Linked DNA regions of Homo sapiens: regions 2 and 3 are each linked to region 1. Evidence: fine-mapped expression QTL. A gene starts in region 1. Each other region holds a variant in brackets. All regions are shown on one strand. Distances are from middle to middle.

What was found.
Region 2: its variant is fine-mapped to the expression of EXO5-DT in coronary artery (GTEx, PIP above 0.99).
Region 3: its variant is fine-mapped to the expression of EXO5-DT in skeletal muscle (FUSION, PIP 0.95).

The regions. Positions count from the first base shown.
Region 1 is chr1:40,505,481-40,513,678 of GRCh38, forward strand. It overlaps EXO5-DT (EXO5 divergent transcript), which reads right to left and starts at 3,215. Exons shown (of 2, transcript NR_187365.1): 1 at 3,109-3,215. It overlaps EXO5 (exonuclease 5), which reads left to right and starts at 3,287. Exons shown (of 4, transcript NM_001346953.2): 1 at 3,287-3,428; 2 at 3,971-4,145; 3 at 4,253-4,310. RefSeq lists enhancers at 3,324-3,573, 3,604-3,693.
Region 2 is chr1:40,351,914-40,360,111 of GRCh38, forward strand. It overlaps a transcript of SMAP2 not described here. Among named protein-coding and RNA genes, the nearest start is that of SMAP2, 18 kb to the right of the region's middle. The variant G/A (reference allele first, on the strand shown) is at 4,537.
Region 3 is chr1:41,409,605-41,417,802 of GRCh38, forward strand. No RefSeq gene overlaps it. Among named protein-coding and RNA genes, the nearest start is that of FOXO6-AS1, 38 kb to the left of the region's middle. The variant TACAC/T (reference allele first, on the strand shown) is at 4,208.

The DNA.
Region 1 (8,198 bases):
AGGCTGAAAGTTTTGGGGAATATATGGTACTATGTTTTTGATATTTATTTTCCCCACAAATTCCATGACTGTTTCTAAATCTCTTCTGCTTCACTCTACCCAGTGTCATTGCCCCTCAAACCCCATTTGAGGAGTGGTCCATGTGTGAAGGGGTTGGGGAGGGGTTTTCCTGGCATTCAGTTTACATCTCAAGTAAGAAAGGTTATGTTGGGGAAGAGGCAGAAAGTTTTTGTAGCCTCAATCCAGAAATGCCTTCTCATATCTCAATGGATTAAAAAGCATTTCCTCAATGATATGGTTTGGTTGTCTCCCAACCCAAATCTCATCTTGAAGTGTAGCTCCCATAATTCCCACATATCATGGAAGAGGTACCTGGTAGGAGGTAATTGAATCGTGGGGGCAGGTCTTTCCCATGCTGTTCTCGTGATAGTGAATAAGTCTCACAAGATCTGATGGTTTTGTTTTGTTTCGTTTTTGTTTTTGAGATGGAATTTCACTCTTGTTGCCCAGGCTGGAGTGCAGTGGCGCGATCTCAGCTCACCACAACCTCCGCCTCCCAGGTTCAAGTGATTCTCCTGCCTCAGCCTCCCGAATAGCTGGGATTACAGGCGTCTGCCACCATGCTTGGCTAATTTTTTGTATTTTTAGTAGAGATAGGGTTTCACCATGTTGGCCAGGCTGGTCTTGAACTCCTGACCTTAGGTGATCCACCAGCCATGGCCTCCCAAAGTGCTGGGATTACGGGCATAAGGCACCACACCCAGCTGACCTGATGGTTTTATAAAGGTGTGTTCCCCTGCACATGTTCTCTCTTGCCTGCCACCATGTAAGAGGTGACTTTGCTCCTCCTTCACCTTCCTCCATGATTGTGAGGCCTCCCCCGCCATGTGGAGCCGTGAGTCAATTAAATCTCTTTCCTTTATAAATTACCCAATCTCAGGTATGTCTTTATTAGCAGCATGAGAACAGACTATTTAATACACTTAAATTCCATTTTTTTTTTTTTTTTTTTTTGAGACAAGAGTCTCAGTCAGCCACCCAGGCTGGAGTGCAGTGGCATGATCTCGGCTCACTGCAACCACCATCTCCCGGTTTCAAGCGATTCTCCCATCTCAGCCTCCCGAGTAGCTAGGATTACAGGCACCTGCCATCATGCCCGGCTAATTTTTGTATTTTAGTAGAGACAGGGTTTCACCATGTTGGCCAGGCTGGTCTTGAACTCCTGACTTCAGGTGATCCGCCCGCCTCGGCCTCCCAAAGTGCTAGGATTACAGGCGAGAGCCACCGTACCTGGCCTCAACTTACATATTTCTAAGAAAAAGAACATTTTCCTACATAACCACAAAATCATTATGACACTCAGGAGACCTATAATTGATTGATAATATTATCTAAAACACAAGTCACTTCAAAATTTTCCCAACTGACGCACCAGAGTAGCTGGGACTACAGGCACGTATCACCACCCCCAGCTAATTTTTGTATTTTTTGTAGAGACGTGTTTTCACCATGTTACCCCAGCTGGTTTCTGAACTGAGCTCAAGGGATCCACCCACTTCGGCCTCCCAGAGTTCTAGGATTACAGGTGTGTGAGCCACTGCACTCAGCCTGTAGTTGTCTTAATTTAATGTTTCTCTTTCTTTCTTTTCTTTTCTTTCTTTCTCTTTCTTTCTTTTTCTTTCCTTTTTTCTCTTTCTTTTTTTCCTTTTTTTTTTTGAGACAGAGTCTCACTTTATCACCCAGGCTGGAGTGCAGTGGCCTGTTGTCGGCTCACTGCAAACTCCGCCTCCCAGGTTCAAGTGATTCTCCTGCCTCAGCCTCCCAAGTAGCTGAGATTACAGGCACCTGCCACCACACTTGGCTAATTTTTTGTATTTTTACTAGAAACGGGGTTTCACTATGTTGGCCAGGCTGGTCTCAACTCCTGACCTCAAGTGATCCGCCTACCTGGGCCTCCCAAAGTGTTGGTATTACAGGCATGAGCCACCATGCCTGGCCAATTTAATGTTTTTCTATTTTTGTTTTAAAATATTTACCTATTCTGAAGTCCAAAGATATTTTCCTATATTATATTCTGAAGACTTTATAGTTTAGGATTTCACATTTAGGTCTTAATCCAGCTACAATTGATTTTTGTGATGAAATGAGAGATAGAGGTCCTGTTTTCTGTTTTGTTTTTTTTTTTGAGACGGAGTCTCCCTCTGTTGCCCAGGCTGAAGTGCAGTGGTGTGATCTCCGCTCACTGCAACCTCCGCCTCCCGGTTCAAGCGATTCTCCTGCTTCAGCCTCCTGAATAGCTGGGACTACAGGTGTGTGCCACCACACCCAGCTAATTTTTGTACTTTTTAGTAGAGACAGGGTTTCACCATGTTGGCCAGGATGGTCTCGATCTCTTAACCTCGTGATCCGCCCACCTCAGCCTCCCAAAGTGCTGGGATTACAGGCGTGAGCCACCGTGCCCGGCCTTCATATTGTCATAGAACCTTCACTGAATAGACCATCTTTTCTCCATGGCTGTATGATGCCACCTTTGTCATAAATCCAGTTTTCAAGTATGCGTGATAAACCGTAAAGAAAAGCAAAGAGTCAAGTATCTGCTTTTGGTAAAATAAATAAATAAATAAATATAAATAAGAAAAGCAAAGTGTTATAAAAGTCGGGCTAGTGGTTTTCTCAGGAAGTGTATCTGTGAAGAACCTGACACTATTCTTTTTTCGCTCTAATGACTTGGCTGTTCATAATTATACTTATCTTTGGTTTATATTTCAGAATAAAATTGTGTTATATTTATCAATAAAAGGTTAGTTAAAAGTAAGCAAACAGAAAAAAAAAAAGAAATATTGATGAGGGGAGCGCCAGCATCTCTCAAAAGTGAGTTCGTGGTTTTGCTCTCAATGGAAAAGCCGGCGGGAGGTGCTAAGGTGGGGATGCTGAATCCACGGATGGCCAAGCGGAGACGCGGCACTTCACCGGGGGCAGCGAGGGGCCCAGACCTTGCTCGGATTGTCCCGGTGGTAACTGGGAGACCTCGCCAGTGAGGGAAGTTACAGATCAGCTGCGCCCGGAATTAAACGACCCACAGACAACGGCGCAAACAGAGGGACTGACCTGCTTTAGTGAGCTCCCAAAACCTGCTCTCGCATAAGCACACCCTCCTCCGCTCACAGAGACGGATTTCTGCCCCAGCCGCAGCCTCGCGAGGTAGGCGGCGCCGCGAGGGCCTCTGGGAAGGCGGTCCGTGGGCAGCCGCGGGGCACTCTGGGACTGGGCTCTGGGCGGCTTTTTTGCGAGTGGCGGGCCGACTGTGTAGTCCGCTCCGGCAGCGCGCTCTGCCCGGCTTCCTCAGTCTCCTCGCCGGGAGCGTCCGGGAGCAGCTCCGAGGCCGCGGCGAAACCAGGTGGAGTCCGAGGTTCGGAGGAGTATCAGAGGTTAGGGGAAGGCCGGAGAATGGGCTGGGAGGCTGCGTTTCGGAGCTTAGGGTTCTGTCCCTGCGATCGCCGCGTCTCCCTCCCTTGGTGGGCGCGGCTCCCGGGAAGCGGCTCGTCTCGTCTCCCCTCACAGGCCGGGTTCCCGTTCTGGACCTTCGCCCTCGGAACACAGTGCTGTTGGCCGGGACTCCTTCCCGAGGTGGACGGCTCCCTGTTCTTATTCCTGGCTCTGCCAGAACTGTAGGAAGTGCTCAGTACACTTTAGGGCATGCATGGCACTCCCTGGGAGACAGTGCTTTAGGGCCAGAGGAAAGATCTTCCCTGAAGGCAAACGCCCGCGGAGCCCACAAGTCCGGGCCGCACTGAACAAGTCAGGATGTTGCCATCGGCAATTCTGCAGAAGGCAGTAACCCATCTGAGAGAAAGAGCCGCTGTCATAAGGTCTCTTGCTTGAGCTGCTGGGTTGAGAATGGAGCTGGAAGAGGGAACTGATCTCGGAGCTCCTTGGGGATCTTGGTTATGTCTGACCCTTTTACTTTCAGGGAGCAGGGATTGGATCAAGTCATTGCATCTAGAGTACGGGGGAACGAAGAAATCATGGAGAGAGTTTGCCCCAGGAGAGAGGCGAGCGTTATGTAACCTAGGATCTGGGGTGGGTAACAGTCTGTGCAGTGTCAATGTGAGAGGAGAAAACACCCAACGTGAGGGAATGGTCAGGTAAGAAAGGACCAGAAGTTCCGGTTCTACCATAGCAAGGACCTAAGTTGCTAATTTAGGTTCTTTAATGCAGACCTGGTCTTTCAGAACTTCTTTCTCTTCCCTAGCCTTGTCATTTCAGCATTCTGGCCTTCCCTATGAGGAGGAAGATCAACGAAGTCACAGGTGAATAGGAGTTTCTCTTCTAAAGTTTCATCTCCTTTGTCAGGGGGAATCGATACACTCTCTCATCTCTTCCTTGGGGAAAAAGAAGGAGATCTATCTTCATCGAGTGCTAATATGCGTACTATATGTTATCACTCAATGGTCGGATATCTCAGTAGGGTTAGTAGGTATTTTAAAAATGTGTCAGTAACTTCAGGAAAACTAGAACCTTGTCCAAGCTTACTCAAAAGGCAAGTAGCATACTACTAAATGCTACCGAACTACTCAGGATTAGGTTTAGAATCCATATCTGTAGGACTCCCAGACTCTTGGCATTATGCTGTTTCCCAGCATCCCATTCACTTACTACCTAACAATTTTGCCATACCTGTGTACTACCTGTATTATTCTATGTTTTTACTTACTTTTTTTTTTTATAAAAATCAAACTTGTCCTAAGAAACAATATCTGTGAAATTAGCCATTTGATGGCTGCTCCAATAACAGTATAGTTATTCTAAGGTGTATCTAAAAATGTTGGTCCATGTGCTATGTAAAATCGTCTCGTGTCAGACATACAAACTACAATTTGGGACACAATGCACTGCATTATGCTCTCTTCTGGATTCTTTTCTGCGTAGGAAAGTCCCAGACACATCTGAGCATCAGTCATCCATCCCTAGTGTACTGTTTTATTCTTATAGATGAATACTTTCACAGAGAATGCCCTGCTTTGTATCTTCTCCAAAAGACATTTCACTTCCCTGTTTAGAACTACCTGTTCTCAATGTTGTATGTAAAACAAGTAGGAACTCCATACATTTCAGGAGCTTCCTCTCTCTTTGGGGAGTTAATGTGTACACAGGAAATAGTCTAACTCTATGCTGTTCAGTAGAGCTTTCTGTGATCAGGGAATGTTCTGTATCTGTGCCTTATCTGTATCCACCAGCCAGATGTAGCTACTGAGCACTTAATATATGGCTAGTGCAACTGAGATGTGAATTTTATTTTATTTTAATTAAATTTAAGTAGCCACATATGGCTAGTGGCTACTAATGGCTACCATATTGGACAGCCAGGTCTAGATATTTGAAATAAAATATTTTAAGGTTATTGATTTGGACTTGGAGTTCCCCCTCACCCTCACAAATACCTCATAGCATATGTGTTATAAATGCCCTTTAGGGCTGGGTGCGGTGGCTCACGCCTGTAATCACAGCACTTTGGGAGGCCGAGGCGGGTGCATCACGAGGTCAGGAGATCGAGACCATCCTGGCTAACACGATGAAACCCCGTCTCTACTAAAAAATACAAAAATTAGCTGGGCGCGGTGGCGGGTGCCTGTAGTCCCAGCTACTCGGGAGGCTGAGGCAGGAGAATGGCGTGAACCCGGGAGGCAGAGCTTGCAGTGAGCTGAGATCCCGCCACTGCACTCCAGCCTGGGTGAAAGAGTGAGACTCTGTCTCAAAAAATAAAATAAAAGAAAAGAAAAAATAAATGCCCTTTAACTTTAGTTTCTTGGTGAAGGGTAAATATTCTTTCCAATTTTCAGAGACTTCATAGTTGAAATAAAGTTTCTTGAAATTATTTAAAGCACATTGACAGTTTATAACACTTGTGTAAATGCACAGCTTCTGTATTTTGTTACTATTGAAATATCCTGTAAAGCAATAATGTTGTAGGATACTCTATAAGCAAAAGTCTTACTATTGTATTATTTTTATTCATTGCAGATAACTTTTCTTCTAGCTATCTATGTTTTCTTTCATTAGTGACATTTAGACTATTTAAAAATCAGTTAAACACAACCACAACTGATATTAATGACGTTTTCAGGGCATCACTTCTTACGCTTTGACATAGGAGTTGGTGCATTCACCTTATTTCACTGCTTATTAGAATAGCAAGAAGGGGACATTTGGTTCATAGCTATCTCTATCAGCTAAAATTCTATGTCAAATTATTTATTTTCCTGGCACTCAAAGTCAAACACTAATGGACTGGTTGTATCTTGTTTTGCTTACTCTCTATGCAGGTTAGATATGTGGGGTTAGAAGGAAGGCTTAAAAAGAGTATCTTCATAAGATAATTTGCCTAGTTTCTTTTTTCTTTTTTCTTTTTTTTTTTTGAGACGGAGTCTCGCTCTGTTGCCCAGGCTGGAGCACAGTGGTGGGATCTCAGCTCACTGCACGCTCCGCCTCCTGGGTTCACGCCATTCTCCTGCCTCAGCCTCCCAAGTAGCTCGGACTACAGGCACCCACCACCAAGCCCGGCTAATTTTTTGTACTTTTAGTAGAGACAGGTTTCACCGTGTTAGTCAGGATGGTCTCGATCTCCTGACCTCATGATCCGCCCGCCTTGGCCTCCCAAAGTGCTGGGATTACAGGCGTGAACCACTGCGCTTGGCCGCCCAGTTTCTTAAGATTAAAAAATACTTGAAAGACAAAACAATCAAACATAATGTGTGGTCTTTGTTTCCTGGATTAAAGAAAAGCTATCTAGGACATTTTGAGGACAGTTGGGGAAATTTATATATGAACTGGAATGTTAAGGAATTACTAATTTTGTCAGATGTGATAATGTAGTTATGAGGAGAATGTCATTTGGAAGACAGTATTGTGGTTATGAAGAAGAATGCCATTTGGAAATTATGCTGAAACATTTAGATTTTAAAGTTTTATGCTATCTGTAATTTACTTTAAAATAGTTCAGCCAAAACAAAAAAGTACACACACAAGAAGTAAATACAGCAAAATGTCAACAGTTGTTCATCTACATGGTGTGGACATGGGTGTTTGTTGTTTTATTCTTTCTACTTCTCTGTATGTTTGAAAATTTTCTTTTTCTTTTGAGATGGAGTCTTCACTCTGTCACCCAGGCTGGAGTGCAGTGGTGTTATCTCAGCTCACTGCAACCTCCACTTCCTAGGTTCAAGCGATTTTCCTGCCTCAGCCTCCCGAGTAGCTAGGATTACAGGTGCCCGCCACCACACCCGGCTAATTTTTTGTATTTTTAGTTTCACCATGAGGTGTATTTTTAGTTTCACCATGCTGGCCAGGCTGGTCTCAAACTCCCGACCCCAGGTGATCCACCTGCCTCGGCCTCCCAAAGTGCCGAGATTACAGGCTTTAGCCACTGTACCCGGCCTTGAAAATCTTTATAGTAAAAAGTTGAAAGAAAAAAGGAGTACAGTACCCATCCCCATCCCACAGTAGGGTAGTGAGATATTGGATGTAAAACACGTGGCTCAGTGTCTGGCACACAAAAAATAACCGCACAATAAATATTCTCTATTATAGCAGTAAATTTTGAGTTTTTAATAATGCTGTAATAGGCAGATTTTTTTCCCATTATAAGCTAGTTTCTTGTGGAGGGAGAAAATAAACTTAATGGGAAACTCCAGTTTAGTGACAGACACCAATTTCTATAATATTAAGAGGATAATTTATGAAGTCAAGCTACTAATTTCCATGTGTCGCTGTAACATCCTCTTATTATTTCATGCATTAATTTGTGTTAGACTATATTTATTTGTATCTATATATAGTTGATCTTTGAATTTTGCCATACTAGGTTCCTTGAACTGCATTTAAAAACAGTTATTGCAGAGCTCCTTTTTCTCAAGGAACAGTTTGTAGTTGAGATTCATTTTGCTCGTCAAGGACTTTGTATAAAGGAAATTGTAGAAAGTGGCCCATGGTAAACTTCTCAAACATTGTTCCTACATTTACAAAGATGTATATTCACTTAAAATAATGAAATACTCTTTCAAGTCAATAGAATTTTGAAGCAGAAAAGGCAAACCTCAAATCTCCTTTTTTTTTTTTTTTCTTTTTCTTGAGACAGAGTCTTGCTCTGTCACCCAGGCTGGAGTGCAGTGGTGCAGTCTCGGCTCACTGCAACTTCCATC
Region 2 (8,198 bases), 150 kb before region 1:
AGGTGTGAGCCACCGTACCCAGCCAGATTCTTAAGCTTCTTTGGGTTATGCACATCCCTGCAAATCTGAGGCCCTCTCTCCCCAAGACTGCACACACCCGCACATCCATGAATTTTTTTTTCTTTTTGTAAAGTGAAAGCAAGTTTATTAAGAAAGTAAAGAAACAAAAGAATAGTTACTCCATAGGCAGAGCAGCTCCATGAAATTTTTCATACAATTTCAGGGGGTTGATATTATAAATAATGTTTAAAATAAATAGTGTTGATAAGGTGCCAAAGTCCATCTGTGGACCCAGGATAAGATGCCCTCCAAGCTTTAATGATATTAGGAACAGGGTGGAGTTCAACCTTCTCAGCACAGCATACAAGGCCTTTCGTGATCTGGCCCTCACCCTCTGTCCAGCTTCTCCTAATGCTTGCCACATGTAACCTCTCTAGCAGCTCAGAGTTCTTTTTCAGTTCTGCATTTTCATGCATTTTAATCTCTCTGCCTATAATGTTCTCCTCCTTGATTGCTCGGAAAAGAACTCCACTCTGTCAAGGCAGAGTTCGTCACTTCTTTCTCTTCTTCCTTCTTTGTTGTTTCCCTTGCTCATTTTAAAATATTTTAATTTAAAAAGTTTTTCTATTTTTTTTTACTTTTAAAGACAGGATCTTGCTCTGTCATCCAAGCTGGAGTGCAGTGGCATGATCATAGCTCACTGCAACCTTGAACTCCCAGGCTCAAGCAATCCTCCCACCTTAGCTAGGACTACAGCAGCAAGCCACCATTCTCTGCTAATTTTTTAAAAAGTTTGTAGAGACAATGCCTCGCTATGTTGCCCAGGCTGGTCTCAAACTCCTGGCCTCAAGCGATCCTCCCTCCTTGGCCTCCTAAAGCTCTAAGATTACAGGTGTGAGCCACCACACGCGGCGCCTCCTCCTCATTTTTGATGGGAAAGGATTATTTTAGCATGATGTGTAATGATCTCGACCACAATTGATAGATATTAACAACAATGAAATTTTTATGTCTGGGTACTCCCATCTGAAGAATCTGAAAGTTCTAAGACTACGTTTGCAGATGGAGTCAGGCATGACGTTTTCCATGGTCCTGACCACCATGGACTCTATGGCAGACATTGTCCGGGGTTGCCCACAGCCATGTCCAGCACCCATCTCTCTTGCTGCCTCCTGCCATAAGGGCTTTCCTGGTGTCCTTTGCAGTTAGAGGCTGAGCCATGCAACCTAGTTTTGGCCAAGGAGTCTTAAGGGAAAGACTGCTGTGAGCTTCTCGGAAAACTTTTGTTTTCCTGATAAAAGAAACAGCTAAGATTGGGGACATTCCTTTTCTCTTCTTCCTTCATTGGAAGATGATGCAATGTTTAGAGCTGTGGTGACCATCTTGTGACCATGAGGTGATTTACATGAGCAGCAGTTCTCATACTTGAATGTGCACCAGAATAGTCACCCAGAGGGCTTCTTTATTTTTTTGAGACAGAGTTTTGCTCTTGTTGCCCAGGCTGGAGTGCAATGGCATGATCTCAGCTCACAGCAACCTCCGCCTCCCGGGTTCAAGTGATTCTCCTGCCTCAGCCTCCTGAGTAGCTGGGACTACAGGCATTTGCCACCATGCCCGGCTAATTTTTTGTATTTTTAGTAGAGATGGGTTTTCACCATGTTGGCCAGGCTGGTCTCGAGTCCCTAATCTCAAGTGACCCACCCTCCTTGGCCTCCCAAAGTGCTGGGATTACAGGTCACTGCACATGGCCCAGAAGGCTTCTTAAAAGAGACTGCTGAGCCCTATCCTCAGAAGTTCTGATTTATACACCTAGAGTGGGCTGAGAATTTGCATTTCTCTCTTTCTTTCTTTTTTTTTTAACAGACAAGTATCTTGCTATGTTGGCCAGGGTGGTCTTGAACATCTGACCTCAAGCAATCCTCCTGCCTCAGCCTCCCAGAGTGCTGGGATTACAGGTGTGAGCCATCGTGCCTGGCCAGAATGTGCATTTCTAACAAGTTGCCAGGTGACACTGATGCTGCTTGTCTGGGGACCACACTTTGAGAACCATTAAACATCAGGATAAAAATACAATAGGTTGAGGATGGCAAAGCAGAATGATAAAGCCTGGGTGTTGATGGCCTTGTCCAGAAGCTGAATCAATGTAAACCACTCCCTTGCCTCTGGATTTCTTGTTCAGTGATAAAATAAACCACTCTTTAAGCTACTGTTAGTTGGGTTTCTCTTGATTCTCATTCAAAGGCCTTCTGAACTTACAGAGAGCTGGACTCTGTAGGAAGGGCACAAGCAGAGAAAAATCCAGAGGGATGCTCATCCAAGGGTGACTTCAAATGGAATAAAGACTGCCTCAACAGGAAATGTCTCAAATTATGTCCTAGAGTCCATGGGTGTTGATAATAGTAAGATTGTGAGTTTTTGTTTGTTTGTTTGTTTTGTTTTGCTTGTGAGATGGAGTCTCGCTCTGTCGCCCAGGCTGGAGTGCAGTGGCGTGATCCCGGCTCACTGATCTCCGCCTCCCGGGTTCAAGTGATTCTCCTGCCTCAGTCTCCCGAGTAGCTGGGACTACAGGCGCCCACCACCACACCCAGCTAATTTTTGTATTTTTAGTAGAGATGGGGTTTCACCATATTGGCCAGGCTGGTCTCAAATTCCTGACCTTGGGATCTGCCTGCCTCGATCTCCCAAAGTGCTGGGATTACAGGCGTGAGCCACCGTGCCCAGCCAAGTTTTTTAATATAAGGTTAGTTAATTTTTTTTAAATGAGAATTGTTTTGGATTTTATTAGCTTTAGTAGTATAACTTGTGACCAACTAGTCTGGCATATCAGAGCAGTGAAATGAACCAAAACATTGAATTTTTTTTTTTTTTTTTTTTTTTTTTTGAGACAGAGTCTCACTCTGTCACCCAGGCTGGAGTACAGTGGCGTGATCTCGGCCCTTAGCTCACTCCAACCTCCACCTCCCGGGTTCAAGTGATTCTCCTGCCTCAGTCTCCTGAGTAGCTGGGATTATAGGCACCCACGACCAAACCCAGCTAACTTTTGTATTTTTAGTAGAGAGGGGGTTTCACCATGTTTGTCAGGCTGGTCTCAAACTCCTGGCCTCAAGTCATCTGCCCGCCTCACCCTCCCAATGTTCTGCCAGCCTCACCCTCCCAAAGTGAGGCCTGAGGTGCACCTGGCCTCATTGAAGGTTTTACAGATCACCCTTATGCTGATACTGATAAAGAATAATTGTGGTTTTTGCCATTAAAATTAATGGCCATTAATAGAAACTGACCAGAGTTCTATTCTTGCTTTGCCACCTTCAGCACTCTTCCGGCCTCTACTCAGGTTATGATAGTGGTGCTTTTGCCTCTGACTAGTTTTCAAGGATAATGATGAGTATCAGTGCCTGTTTACTAAGAATTTTTGTTTTGGTCTCTTTTTTGCTTATTCCTCGTTATCACTATACTATTATACTTTCAATATGTATTTATAATTGCTTATTTTTAATTTTTAATTTTTGTGTGTACATAGTAGGTGTATGTACTTATGGGGTACATGAGATATTTTGATACAGACATACAATGCATAATAATCACATCAGGGTAAATAGGGTGTCTCAAGCATTTATTCTTCGTGTTACAAACAATTCAATTATACTCTTTAAGCTATTTTAAAATATACAATAAATTATTTTTGACTGTAGTCACCCTGTTGTGCTATCTAATACTAGATTTTTTTTTGAGACGGAGTCTCACTTTGTTGCCCAGGCTGGAGTGCAGTGGCACCGGTCAGGGCTCACTTCAGCCTTGACCTCCCAGGCTCAAGCAATCCTCCCTTCTCAGCCCCTCAAGTAGCTGGAACTACAAGCATGTGCTAATTTTTAAATTTTTTGTAGAGACGAGGTCTCACTATGTTGCCAAGGTTGCTGTGGAACTCCTGGGCTCAAACGACCCACCTGCCTCAGCCCCCCCAAAATGCTGGGATTATAGGTGTGAGCCACTGCACCCAGCAAATTCTAGATCTTATTCATTCTATCTAACTATATTTTTGTACCCGTTAACCATTCCCACTTTCCCCCACCCCCACTAACCTTCCCTGTCTCTGGTAACCATTATTCTTCTCTCTGTCTCCATGAGTTCAGTTGTTTTAATTTTTAGCTCCCACAAATGAGTGAGAACATGTGAAGTTTGTCTTTCTGTGCCTGGCTCATTTCACTAACATAATGACCTCCAGTTCCATTCTTGTTGCAAACTAGAGGATCTCATTCTTTCTTATGGCTGAATAGTACTCCATTGTATGTACGTACCACATTTTCTTTATCCATTTGTCTGTTGACAGACACTTAGGTTGCTTCTAAGTCCTGGCTATAGTGAACAGTGCTGCAATAAACAGGACAGTGCAGATATCCCCTCGATATACTGATTTCCTTTCTTTTGGATATACACCTTGCAATGGGATTGCTGGATCATATGGTTGTTCTATTTTTAGTTTTTTGTGGGTTTTTTGTTTTTTTTTGTTTTTTTTTTTTTGAGACCAAGTCTCGCTCTGTC[G/A]CCTAGGCTGGAGTGCAGTGGCGTGATCTCAGCTTACTGCAAGCTCTGCCTCCCGGGTCCACACCATTCTCCTGCCTCAGCCTCCTGAGTAGCTGGGACTACAGGCACCTGCCACCATGCCCAGCTAATTTTTTGTATTTTTGGTAGAGACGGGGTTTCACTGTGTCAACCAGGATGGTTTCGATCTCCTAACTTTGTGAGCCGCCCGCCTTGGCCTCCCAAAGTGCTGGGATTACAGGCGTGAGCCACCGTGCTGGACCCCTATTTTTAGTTTTTTGAGGAACCTCCAAACTGTTCTCCATAGTGGTTGTCTTAATTTACATTCCCAACAACAGTGTACGAGGGTTCCCTTTTCTTCACATCCTCTCTAGTGTTCGTTATTGCCTGTCTTTTGGATAAAAGCCATTTTAACTGGGGTGAGATAATATCTCATTTTAGTTTTGATTTGCATTTCTCTTATGATCAGTGATGTTGAGCAACTTTTCATATACCTATTTGACCTTTGTGTGTCTTCTTTGGAGAAATGTCTGTTCAGATTTTTTGCCCATTTTTAAATCAGATTATTAGATTTTTTTCCTATTGAGTTATTTGAGCTCCTTATATATTCTGTTTATTAAGCCCTTGTCAGATGAATGGTTTGCACATTTTTTTCCCCATTCTGTGGGTTGTCTCTTCATTTTGTTGATTATTTCCTTTGGATTGTTGAGTATTTCCAATGGACCCCATTGTCCATTTTTGCTTTGGTTTCCTGTGCTTGTGAGGTATTTCTTGAGAAATTTTGGATCACCTGAGGTCAGGAGTTCGAGACCAGCCTGGACAACATGGTGAAACCCCATCTCTACTTAAAATACAAATATTAGCCAGGCATGGTGACGTGTGCCTGTAGTCCTAGCTACTCAGGAGGCTGAGGCAGGAGAATTCCTTGAACCTGGGAGGCAGAAGTTGCAGTAAGCTGAGATCACACCACTGCACTCCAGCCTGGGCCACAGAGCGAGATTCTGTCTCAAAAACAAACAACAACCACAAAAAAAAAAAAAGAAGGAAATCTTTGCCCTGTCCAATGTCCCAGAGAGTTTCCTCAGTGTTTTCTTTTAGTAGTTTCACAGTTTGAAGTCTTAGATTTAAGTCTTAGATCAAATTTTGGTTTGATTTTCGTATATGGTGAGAAGGGTCTAGTTTCATTCTTCTACATATAGGTATGCAGTTTCCCTAGCACCATTTATTGAAGAGACTGTTTTTTCCCCAGTCAATATTCTTTGCATCTTTGCTCAAAAAGAATTCACTGTAGGTGTATGGATTTGTTTCAGGGTTTTTCATTTTGCTCCATTTGTCTATATGTCCATTTTTGTGCCAATGCCATGCTGTTTTGGTTACTATAGCTTTGTAGTATAATTTAAAGTCAGGTAATGTGATTACTCCAGCTTTGTTCTTTTTGCTCAGGATAGCTTTAGCTATTCTGGGTCTTTTGTGGTTTCATATAAATTTTAGGATTGTTTTTCCTATTTCTTTGAGGAATGTTATTGGTTTTTTTTTTAATAGGGATTGCATTAAATCTGTACATTGCTTTAGGCAATATGAATATTTTAACAATATTTATTCTTCCAATCCATGAACATGGAATACGTTTCCATTTTTTGTGTCATCTTGATTTATTTCATCAATGTTTTATAGTTTTTATTGTTAAGATCTTTCACTTCTTGGGTTAATTCTTATGTATTTTACTTAATTTGTAGCTATTGTAAATGGGATTACTTTCTTGATTTCTTTTTCAGATTGTTTGCTGTTGACATACAGAAATGCTACTGATTTTTGGCCGGGTGCAGTGGCTCACACCTGTAATCCCAGCACTTTGGGAGGCCAAAGTAGGTGGATTACTTGAGGTCAGGAGATCGAGACCAGCCTGGCCAACGTGGTGAAACACTGTCTCTGCTAAAAATACAAAAAATTAGCTGGGCGTGGTGGTGGACATGTGTAATCCCAGCTACTTGGGAGGCTAAGGCAGGAGAATTGCTTGAACCCAGGGGGCGGAGGTTACAGTAAGCCAAGATCACACCATTGCACTCTAGACTGGGCGACAGAGCAAGATTCCATCTCAAAACAAAACAAAACAAAAAACACACACAAAGTGCTGGGATTACAGGCATGAGCCACTGCACCTGGTCTTGAATTTTTAAAGACTTATTTTATGGCCTAACATATACTCTATCCTTGAGAATGATCCATGTGCTGAGGAGAAGAATATGTATTCCGCAGCTGTTGTATGAAATGTTTTGTATCTATTAGGTTCATTCGATTTTTAGTGCAGATTAAGTCTGATGTTTCTTTGTTGGTTTTCTGTCTGGATGATCTGCCCAGTGCTGAAAGTAGGGTGTTGAAGTTTCTAGCTATTAATGTATTGGGGTCTATTTCTCTCTTTAGCTCTAATAATATTTCCTTTATATATTTGGGTGCTCCAGTGTTGGATGCAGATATATACATCCTCTTGCTGAATTGATTCCTTTATCATTATATAATGACCTTCTTTGTCTCTTTTTATGGTTTGTATCTTGAAATCTATTTTGTCTGTTATAAATATAGTTACTTCTGTTCTTTTTTGTTTTCATTGACATGGAATATCTTTTTCCATTCCTTTATTTTCAGTCTATGTGTATCTTTTTTTGTTTGTTTGTTTGAGACAAAACCTTGCTTTGTTGCCCAGGTTGGAGTGCAGTGGCACAATCTCAGCTCACTGCAACCTCTGTCTCCCAGGTTCCAGCAATTCTCCTGCCTCAGCCTCCCAAGTAGCTGGAACTACAAGTGCGTGCCACCATGCCCAGCTAATTTTTGTATTTTTAGTAGAGACGGGGTTTCCCCATGTTGTCCAGGCTGGTCTCGAACTCCTGACCTCAGGTGACCCACCCACCTTGGCCTCCCAAAGTGCTGGGATTACAGGCATGAGCCACCGCACCCCTATTTGTGTCTTTATAAGTAAGTTTCTTGTATGCAACAGATCACCAGGTCTTGTTTTTTCATCCATTCAGCCACTTTATGTCTTTTCATCAGAGAGTTTAGTCCATTTACATTCAGTGTTATTATTGGTAAGTAAGGACTTATGCCTGCCACTTTGTTATTTGTTTTCTGGTTGTTTTGTGGTTTTCTCTTCCTTCTTTCCTTTCTACTTGTCTTCCTTTTAGTGAAGGTGGTTTTCTCTGGTGGTACACTTTACTTTTTTGCTTTTTATTTTTTGTTTATCTGTTGTTTGTTTTTTATTTGAGGTTACCATAAGGACTGCAAATCATCTCTTATAACCCATTATTTTAAACTGATGACAACTTAACACTGATTGCGTAAACAGACAAGCAAAGAAAAAAACTAATAAAAACTCAACACTTTATCCCCCTCCTTTTTAACTTTTTGTCATTTCTGTCTATATCTCATTGGACTGTCTATGTCTTGAAAAGTTGTAATTATTATTTTTGATCAGTAAGCAATCACAGTATCTGGTTTTAACTTCGTATTACAGAAAGAGGCACTGAAGAGGGTACAAAAGACAGACTTTTTTCTTCTTCTTCTTTCTTTTTTTTTTTTTTTTTTTTGAGATGGAGTCTCGCTGTGTCACCTAGGCTGGAGTGCAGTGGTGCGATCTCGGCTCACTGCAAGCTCCGCCTCCCAGGTTCATGCCA
Region 3 (8,198 bases), 900 kb after region 1:
CAGTGGTACTCTTCCCTTTTTCCCTTACACCAGGCATTTGGCCTCTGGTGGGAGTGTGTGGGAAGGGGTGTTTCCTTCATGTAGAACCCATAGGTCCAGAGTCTACCCCTTTCTCCTCCCTTGTGGAGTTACCTGCCCATGCATGGGGTCACCTGCCTGTAGGATTGCTCTGTTGATGAACATTTCACCCAATTGAACAACCCCTTCCCTTCCATCTCTTATCCCTGCACCTCTCATACCTGGAGTACAGCAGAGAATGGGAGGGTATGCAGAGCCCCTGCGCTCACGCCACGCTCCCCATGGGAAAGGCACTCCCAGATCTAAGTCCGGAATCATAACCCTTCCTTTCCACATGGCTCCATGAACTCGGTTATCTGGTGTTCCTGCCTCCAGTGGGTCAGGAATAATAATTAGAAGGATAAAGTGGGAACAAACACATGGGTACAGTGACAAGCTGAGACAGGAAGATCATAAAAACACGGAAAGACTGGAAGAACACGGACTTTGGGGCCATTTACTGCAGGGGCAAGGCAAGGGCTCTAAGCTCTTCAGTAAAGCAGGAAGCATCATTTACTGTAGCCCAGACATTAATTAAAGATCATCCCACAAGCTGCTTTCCTGGGAAGTTACTTGATCTCTGTAGCCTTGAGATCCCTCCACTACTGGATGATCTCCAAGGCTCCTTCACAAAAGCTCGGCATCTGTATTGACACAAATCATACAATCAGACAAGGTTAAGTCATGTCCCATGTACTGTTTTTAAAAAGCAGGGGAGTCTATAATACCTTTTAGCAATATATCCATTCAAAGTGGATTTTAAATGCATTGACTTTAAAGGTCAACCTAAAGGTCTTCCATTTTAAGAACTTGTATGGGCTTTGTATACTGGCCACTGAGCAAAGCACTGGCGATACAGAGAAAGACATATCCTGCTTTCGAGCTGTCAGTCTAGTGGGGTGCAAGGCATATAAACCGATCAGTGCAATCCAACAAGATGCAGTGGGGCCAAGAGAGATACTAGAGCTTTGTGGTGGATCAGAATGGCTGGGTCTTGACATATTGGTAGGAGTTTTCTGGGCAAAGAAGGGGAAGAATATTCAGATACAGAGAACAGTGTGAGCAAAGGCACAGAGGCATGAAAATCTCTTGTGTTCAGAAATTAGAGGTGGTTCAGTCTTAGTGGGATATTAGAGTTGAGACAAACAAAAACTAGAGATCAGGCTGGAGAGGTAACTGGGGGCAATGATAAAAGGTCTTAAATGCCAGTCCAAGGGGTTTGGACCTTATTCTGTAGGCAACAAGGGAGCCATGGAAGGCTCTAGAGCAGGAGCAACATGATCAGATCTATGTTTAATTTTAATTTTTATCTTTTTGAGACAGGGTCTTGCTCTGTTGCTCAGGCTGGAGTGCAGTGGCACGATCTTGGCTCAGTGCAGCCTCAGTCTCCAGGGCTCAAGCGATTCTTCTGACTCAGCCTCCTGAGTAGCTGGGACTACAGTGTGTGCCACCATGCCCCACTAATTTTCTTCTTTTTTTTTTTTTTTGTAGAGATAGTTTCACCATGTTGCCCAGACTGGTCTTGAACTCCTGGGCTGAGGCAATCTGCCTGCCTCAGCCTCTCAAAGTGCTGGGATTGCTGGGATTACAGGTGTGAGCCACTCTACCCAGCCCGGATCTATAGTTTAGAAAGTCCTCCCTCCAGCAGTCAGTGTGGAAGATGGATGGAGAAAAGATATTGGCTTGGGACTGCAGTCATCTGCAGGTTCACCTGGGTGAAAGCATCTGCTTCTAAGATGACTCATCACACACCTGCAGGCTGGAGCAGCTTGCTGGCAAGAAGCCTCATTTCCTTTCCACTGGGCTGCTTGAGTCTCCTCACAACATGGCAGCTGGCTTCCCCCAGAGAAAGTGATTTAAGAATGAGTGAGACGGAAGCCTCACTGTCCTTTTGCGACCTAGCCTAGGAAGCCACACTCTGTCACTTTCATAATATCCCATTGTGTACAAAGATCAGCTCTGTTCAATGACTACACAGGGATGCAACTACCAGGTGATGACAAGCACCGGGGACTTCTTGGAAGCTGCTACTACAGACAGAGGTCATCTTCTTCAACTCCTTTGTTTTTTGGATGAGGAAGCTGAGACCCAGAGATGGGTGGGGACTCACTCAGGGGCACGTAGCAAGTTTGGGCCATGACCAGGGCTACATGGTGGAGTCTACATAGGCCTGGGGGACTGGGATCTTCTTTCCTGGAAGGCCTAGAAGGAGGAGAGGCCCAGGCCAGGTGTGGTGGCTCATGCCTGTAATCCCAGCACTTTGGGAGGCCAAGGCGGGCAGATCACTGGAGGTCAGGAGTTCAAGACCAGCCTGGCCAACATGGTGAAACCCCATCTCTACTAAAAATACAGAAATTAGCCTGGCATGGTGGTGGGCACCTGTAGTCCCAGCTACTCAGGAGGCTGAGGCAGGAGAATCACTTGAACCTGGGAGGCAGAGGTTGCAGTGAGCCGAGATCGTGGCACTGAACTGCAGCCTGGGCCACAGAGCAAGACACTGTCTAAAAAAAGAAAGAAAGAAAGAAAGAAAAAGAAAAAAACAAGGAGAGGCCATCAGGAGGCGGATTCAGCCCCTGCTCACTTGGGAGGCTGAGGGACTGGCCAACCTCTCTGAGAGCTGGCTGGGGAGTGGGACCTCCTCCCTAGCCTGTCCCTGGAGTATGAGCACCAAGCCAGGGCTGCTTCCGCCTGACCTGGGCAGCATCTCCCACCCTCCCCACCATGCAGCTCTTTGGCTGTGCAGGTGTGGAGGAGGCACATCTTGCTGGTTCATCTCTCCACTCTTTATTTATTCAACAAGGTTTTACCAAAAATCTCCTATGTGTCTGGCATCTCCAGGACCAATGTTGGACATACATGTCCCTTGACTTCATGCATGAAACTTACCATCAAGTGGGGTAGACCAACAAAGACATAAAGACATATGTTTGTACAAATTGTGAAACGTGCCTGTAGGAGAATAACAAAAACACTTCATTTAGATGAGGTAGTTGGGGAATGTTCTCTGAGGCAGTGACATTTAGGTCTAGACCTGAAGAAGTCAGGCAGACAAAGAGTTTGGGTGACAGGGTGGGAAGGGTGTTCCAAGCACAGGGACCCCAGTGTGCAGAGTTGGCTAGGAGGGGTGAGTTGGGGCAGTGGACCTTCAGGGGTGCCCTGAGCGAGTTGGAGCAGGGCGAAGGGGCTGATGTGGAGAGGCCAGGGCCGGTCTGGGCTTGCCCTGCCACCAGGCTAACCTCAGTCTGCCTGCTGCATAGCAAGTGACCCCACGTGGCTCTGGAAAGGAAAACATGGGGAGTGGCATGCAGGCTGGACTGTCACCGAGATGGCCCTGAGCAGGACCCTTCGCCCTACAGGATGAACAGGCAGACCTTGCAAAGGACAGAGATAAGGCAGGTCTTTCAGCAGGCTGCTGCCAGGAAACTCGGGTGTGGGTGGAGGCAGGGGGCGTGGAAAGGGGACTGCATGGGAATTTGGGGCCCCAGAGCTCTGGTGGAGAGGAGACCCCAAAATGTCAGAGCCCTAGGATCATGAGCCTCCCCTGGGGAGCATCCCAATGCATTTCTTGTTCCCTGTGGCCTCAGGTGTGGGTGACGCCTGAGCTAAGCCAACTCTGGCACTGTCCTGCTGTGTGACCTCAAGGAAGCCTCTCTCTCTCTGAGCCTCAGTGCCCTTCACTGTCAAAAGGGCATTAAAATCCCCTTGCAGAAAGTTGTCAGGATCAAAAGATATAATGGATAGGAAAGGGTCTTAGTGGTTGAGAAGTGACCCTCCCAACCCCCACGAGGCTGCTGGGTTCATCGTTGCTAATGAACTGGTTGGGGGCTGGCTTGGACGCCCATTAGCCACTGCTCTGCCTCGGTGCCCCAGGCCAGCTGAGAGCAGGCAGGGGCTGCTCCCACCAGGGGGCTGTGGGGTTAAGTGGGAGCTAAGAGGATTAGAGGGTCCTTGTGAGTGGTGCAGCGTGATCATCTCCCACTCACCCTTGCCTCCAGCCTGGGCTGTCTACATATCTGGCTGCGGGGCCAAGGAAGAGGGATGGAGGGAGGAGGAGGGAAGGAATCAAAGGGAAGAGGGATTCAGAGGAGCCAGGGAGATCTGCTGCACCCCCACGTTCATGCACATGCACAAAAAGTACACGCACAAAAAA[TACAC/T]ACACAACTACACACAAGAGCACATAAACACACACGTATGCAGTGTGCATATAGGTGTACTCGCAAGGATACACGCATGCATACATATTGCACACACATGCACATGAGTGTGTATGCAAGTACATATGCATGTGACAAGCATACAGCATACATGTGCACAGACACATGTGAGCACACATGCACATGCCCCGCACACCTGTGCATACTCACATGCATGTGTGGGTGTGCACAAACACACGTACACACTGGCCGGGTCATGCCCTCCCCCGCTACCCCAGTCTCTCACGCAGTTTGAGACCCAAGGCCTCACATGTCCCCAGGTCATAACTGCACTTCGGATGCTCCTTCAGTGTTACATCAATGACACACATAGCCTGTGACTTGCACAATGTCTCACAATGCTAGAAAGGGCCTGAGCCAGGATCTAAACTCATTTTGGAGGGTGGCGGGTGTGCCTGTATGGAGGGATGGAAGGTGAATCCAGGAGACCCCAAAGGGCTGCAGCCCCAGGAGCAGGAGGGGGCTGATGCTGGTAGAAAGAGATATTACACACCTGGCATGGAACTGCTCGGACATATGGTTACCAGTGCCCACCCCCCAGGCTGGCACATCACCTGCCCTCTGCTTCTCTCTCCTTTTAGCTCCCTGGACCCAGTCAGAGAGCTTCTAGCCAAGGGCCTGGTGTCTCATGAAGCGAACGGAGATCAGGCTGGCTGGGTGCCTGGTGCCCCTGAAGGAAGGAGGAAGGGAGCTGGCATCTGTGGAGGACCACTTCTGACCAAGACTGCCTAGTGAATGCTGGCCACTTTCATCTTGTTAAATTTTTAAGTGAAAGGTCAAGGGACTTGCAGGGTTCATGGGGCTGGAGCAGGACAAGGTGGGCCTTGACCTCAGGCATCCATCTCCATATAGCCATGGGCATGGCTGGACAGACATACAGGTTGGAGTGGCCTGGGCACAGCTGCCAACAGCAGCCCCCCCACCCAGCCCCGACTGCCACACTGCATGTGCTGTCCCTGCTGAGGCTGGGGGGAATGAGAAAGTGGAGTGAAGGCATGGAGAGGGCCTGGGTAAGGGGCTCGGGGCTGGACACCCTAGGCATAGCCACAGGTCCTTGAGCTCCAGAGTATCCTGGTGATGCCTGGGGCAGTTCTTGGGTCTCCCCCAAGAGACTGCTCTGGGGCAGGGTGAGCGAAGTCTCCCCCACTGGATGGCATGCTCTGAGGCTTCCTGGAGTTGTCCCCTGTGGCCTGCCAGGGGCCTGGCCGGTGCTGCAGCCTGAGATTTACAAGCCAGCCTGAAGGCGCAAACAATAAATCAAGCTTGAGTCTGGCCGTGGACTTGTCCTCCCACTGCCTTCCAGGCCTCTCACCTGCCATGTCCAAGCCAGGCACTAGAGCTGGGATGGGAGCATCGGGGAGGAGCCCTGGCCCAGCCTCCACCTTCCTGCTTCTCCCTGTGAGACCCTCTCTCTGGGTTTTCCAGGTACTGAGGCCTGGAGGTTAAGGGCTGGGGCTCTTGAAGCTGTCAGCCTGGGTCCAAGCACCAGAGCCCCTCTATTCCTGGTTGGGGAGCTTGTGCAGAGGCATAGCTCTGAGCATCCATTTATGGGGATAATGGTCACACCAGCACCAGGTGCCCTTGTGGGTTTGCTAAGGTGCTTAAAACAGGGCCTGGGAGGTAAGTTGCTCTTACCTGAGTCCCTAAAACAGAACAGAGGGACAAGGGTGTGGCTTTGCCTGTGCCCCAGGGTTTATCCCTCATTGTGTCTGTCCAAGTGCCTTGGGGAGAGGTCAGGGCAGCCCTTTCCCTAGAGGCTGCTGTGAATCACTGGGCTCAAAGCAGGGCCAGGACAGGGCTGACTGGGGAGGTGCTGGGAGGTGCCCCCAGCCACAGCCCTGCAGGCTCAGGGACAGGAACAGTGATAGAAACCAGCCTTTCCTGTCCCCTCTTCCCACTGTGGCTTTTCCTCCTCTGGACAACCCTATGAAGCAGATACTGTCCCTGTTTAAAGATGAGGTTGCTGATCTCATCCTTAGATGAGGGAGAAGAGGAGGTATGTGACTTGCCCAAGGTCACACAGCTCGTAAAAGGCAGGTGGAAATTTGAACCAGCCTCTCTGGGTTTTAGTGTCTCTCAAGAGCACACCAGGCCCAGTGGCTGGGACAGGACAGGACAGGGTGCTGGGAGTTGGTGAGGCCTGGCAAACCACAGGTGCTCACCAAGTATCATTCCCTCTGCCTTCGGAGGCTAGGGAGAGGGATGAAGGGTGCCTCTTCACTGCACAGGGGCCTGTAGGATGCCCAGCAGGGGCCCACCAGGGCTGAGTGGGGCGGGAGCTCAGGGAGGTTGGTGCCCCAGGTGAGTCCCAAGCCCTGCCCTGGAAGAGGCTCAGGAGATAAGCTGGGGCCCTAGGGCCGCATCTCCTAGCAACATGGCCTTGGGGACCCTGCCTGTCTGCCTCAGGTGCCCCAGGGAGCCCAGCTCAACCGCCATCCCCAGGTGTCTGGCTGAGGAACCTGCTGGGTGGGGGCGGAGCAGAGGGCGAGTGCCAAGCCTGGGCTTAGCCCCCAGGACAGGGAAAGAGGGTCCCCTCCTCCAGCCAAGGGTGAAGCTTCTGGGGTGTGGGGGGCTGTGGGGCTGAGAGGGGAGGGGTTTTCCTCTTCCCCTTCCAGCCGTCTCTCTGTGTCTGTCCCCATCTCTCTTCCTAGTGTGCTCCCTGCATCTGGGAGCTCTCCCTTCTCCCTTCCTCTGCCTCCTGCGGCCGCCCTCACTCCCCCACTTCTCCCTCAGGGTTCGGTTTCTCTGTCTGTCCGTCTATCTCTCTTCCTGTCCCACCCGTCTCTTCCGAATGTCTCTCCCACATCTCTCTCGTGCCCCCGCCCTGTTTCCCGTGTTGCTTTGCTCTGCCTCCCTCTGCCCCCCGCCCCCCTGGCTCTCTCCATCCCTTATGCTGAGGCCTCCCCACCCTCACACTTGTGGCTTCCCCTGTCTCCTGCAGCCTTCAGGGAGCCAGGGAGGCAGCGTAGGTGCTGGTACCCCAGCCTCGGTTGGGAGTCATACCACGGATGCTTAGGGGGTGTGCAGGGAAGCCAGCCTGAACAGGAAGACAAAAATTCACTCATGACCTGGGGCTGATCTTGCCTTCTCTTGGGCCTCAGTTTCCCCATCTGTGAAATGGGTCTAATGGCTTTGGTAGGAAGTATCCGTGTTCTCTAGGCTGTTGTGGATCACAGGCTGTGATAGAAATGGACAGAATGTCAGGCTGAGGTGGTGTAGGGCATCTTCTGGAGAAAGGGCTGTGGTGGTGGAAGCCCTTCTGGAGGATGGAGGCTCATCCTTGTCCTTCTGGCCGGCAGGCTTTGGCTGGCACTGCCCTCCTCCCTCAGGAGTGGTCTTCCTGGGGTGAGTCAGGGAGGCCTTGGCGCACTTGGCTGCATCATGGTGCCCTCTGGTGGCATGCGGCAGAAACTGCTGCCACATTTTGCTCTGCCCTCTGGTCCTGGGCGGGTGTGGACTCCAGGGCTTGCTGAGTGACCCTGGGCCCTGGGAATGCCAGTAGGAGCTAAACTCTACTGTGCACTAGGTGAGTGCCAGGCTTCTCTGCACCACAACTGCTTCTGTGCACTCTCCTATTTCGTCTTCACCCTGCCCCACTATTATCCCCATCTTACAGATGGGAAAGTTGAGACCCAGGGTTTTAACCCAGGCAGTTGGCTCCACAGCCAGCACTCTTGACACCACACTTGGAATTCTGCCTCTAAAATGACTCCAGCAGATGCTACAATCCCACTATCAGTGAAGACCCATTCTTTGGGGCTATTTATTTGTCTAACAAATATGTATTTACACTTGCTATTTTCAGAGCCAAAGGAGCTCACAGAATGCACTTAGCCTGATTGTGTCACTTTACAGATGGTGAAACTGAGACCCAGAGAGGGGGAGTGACTGTCCCATGGTCACATGTGTGAGTATGAGGGTGTATGG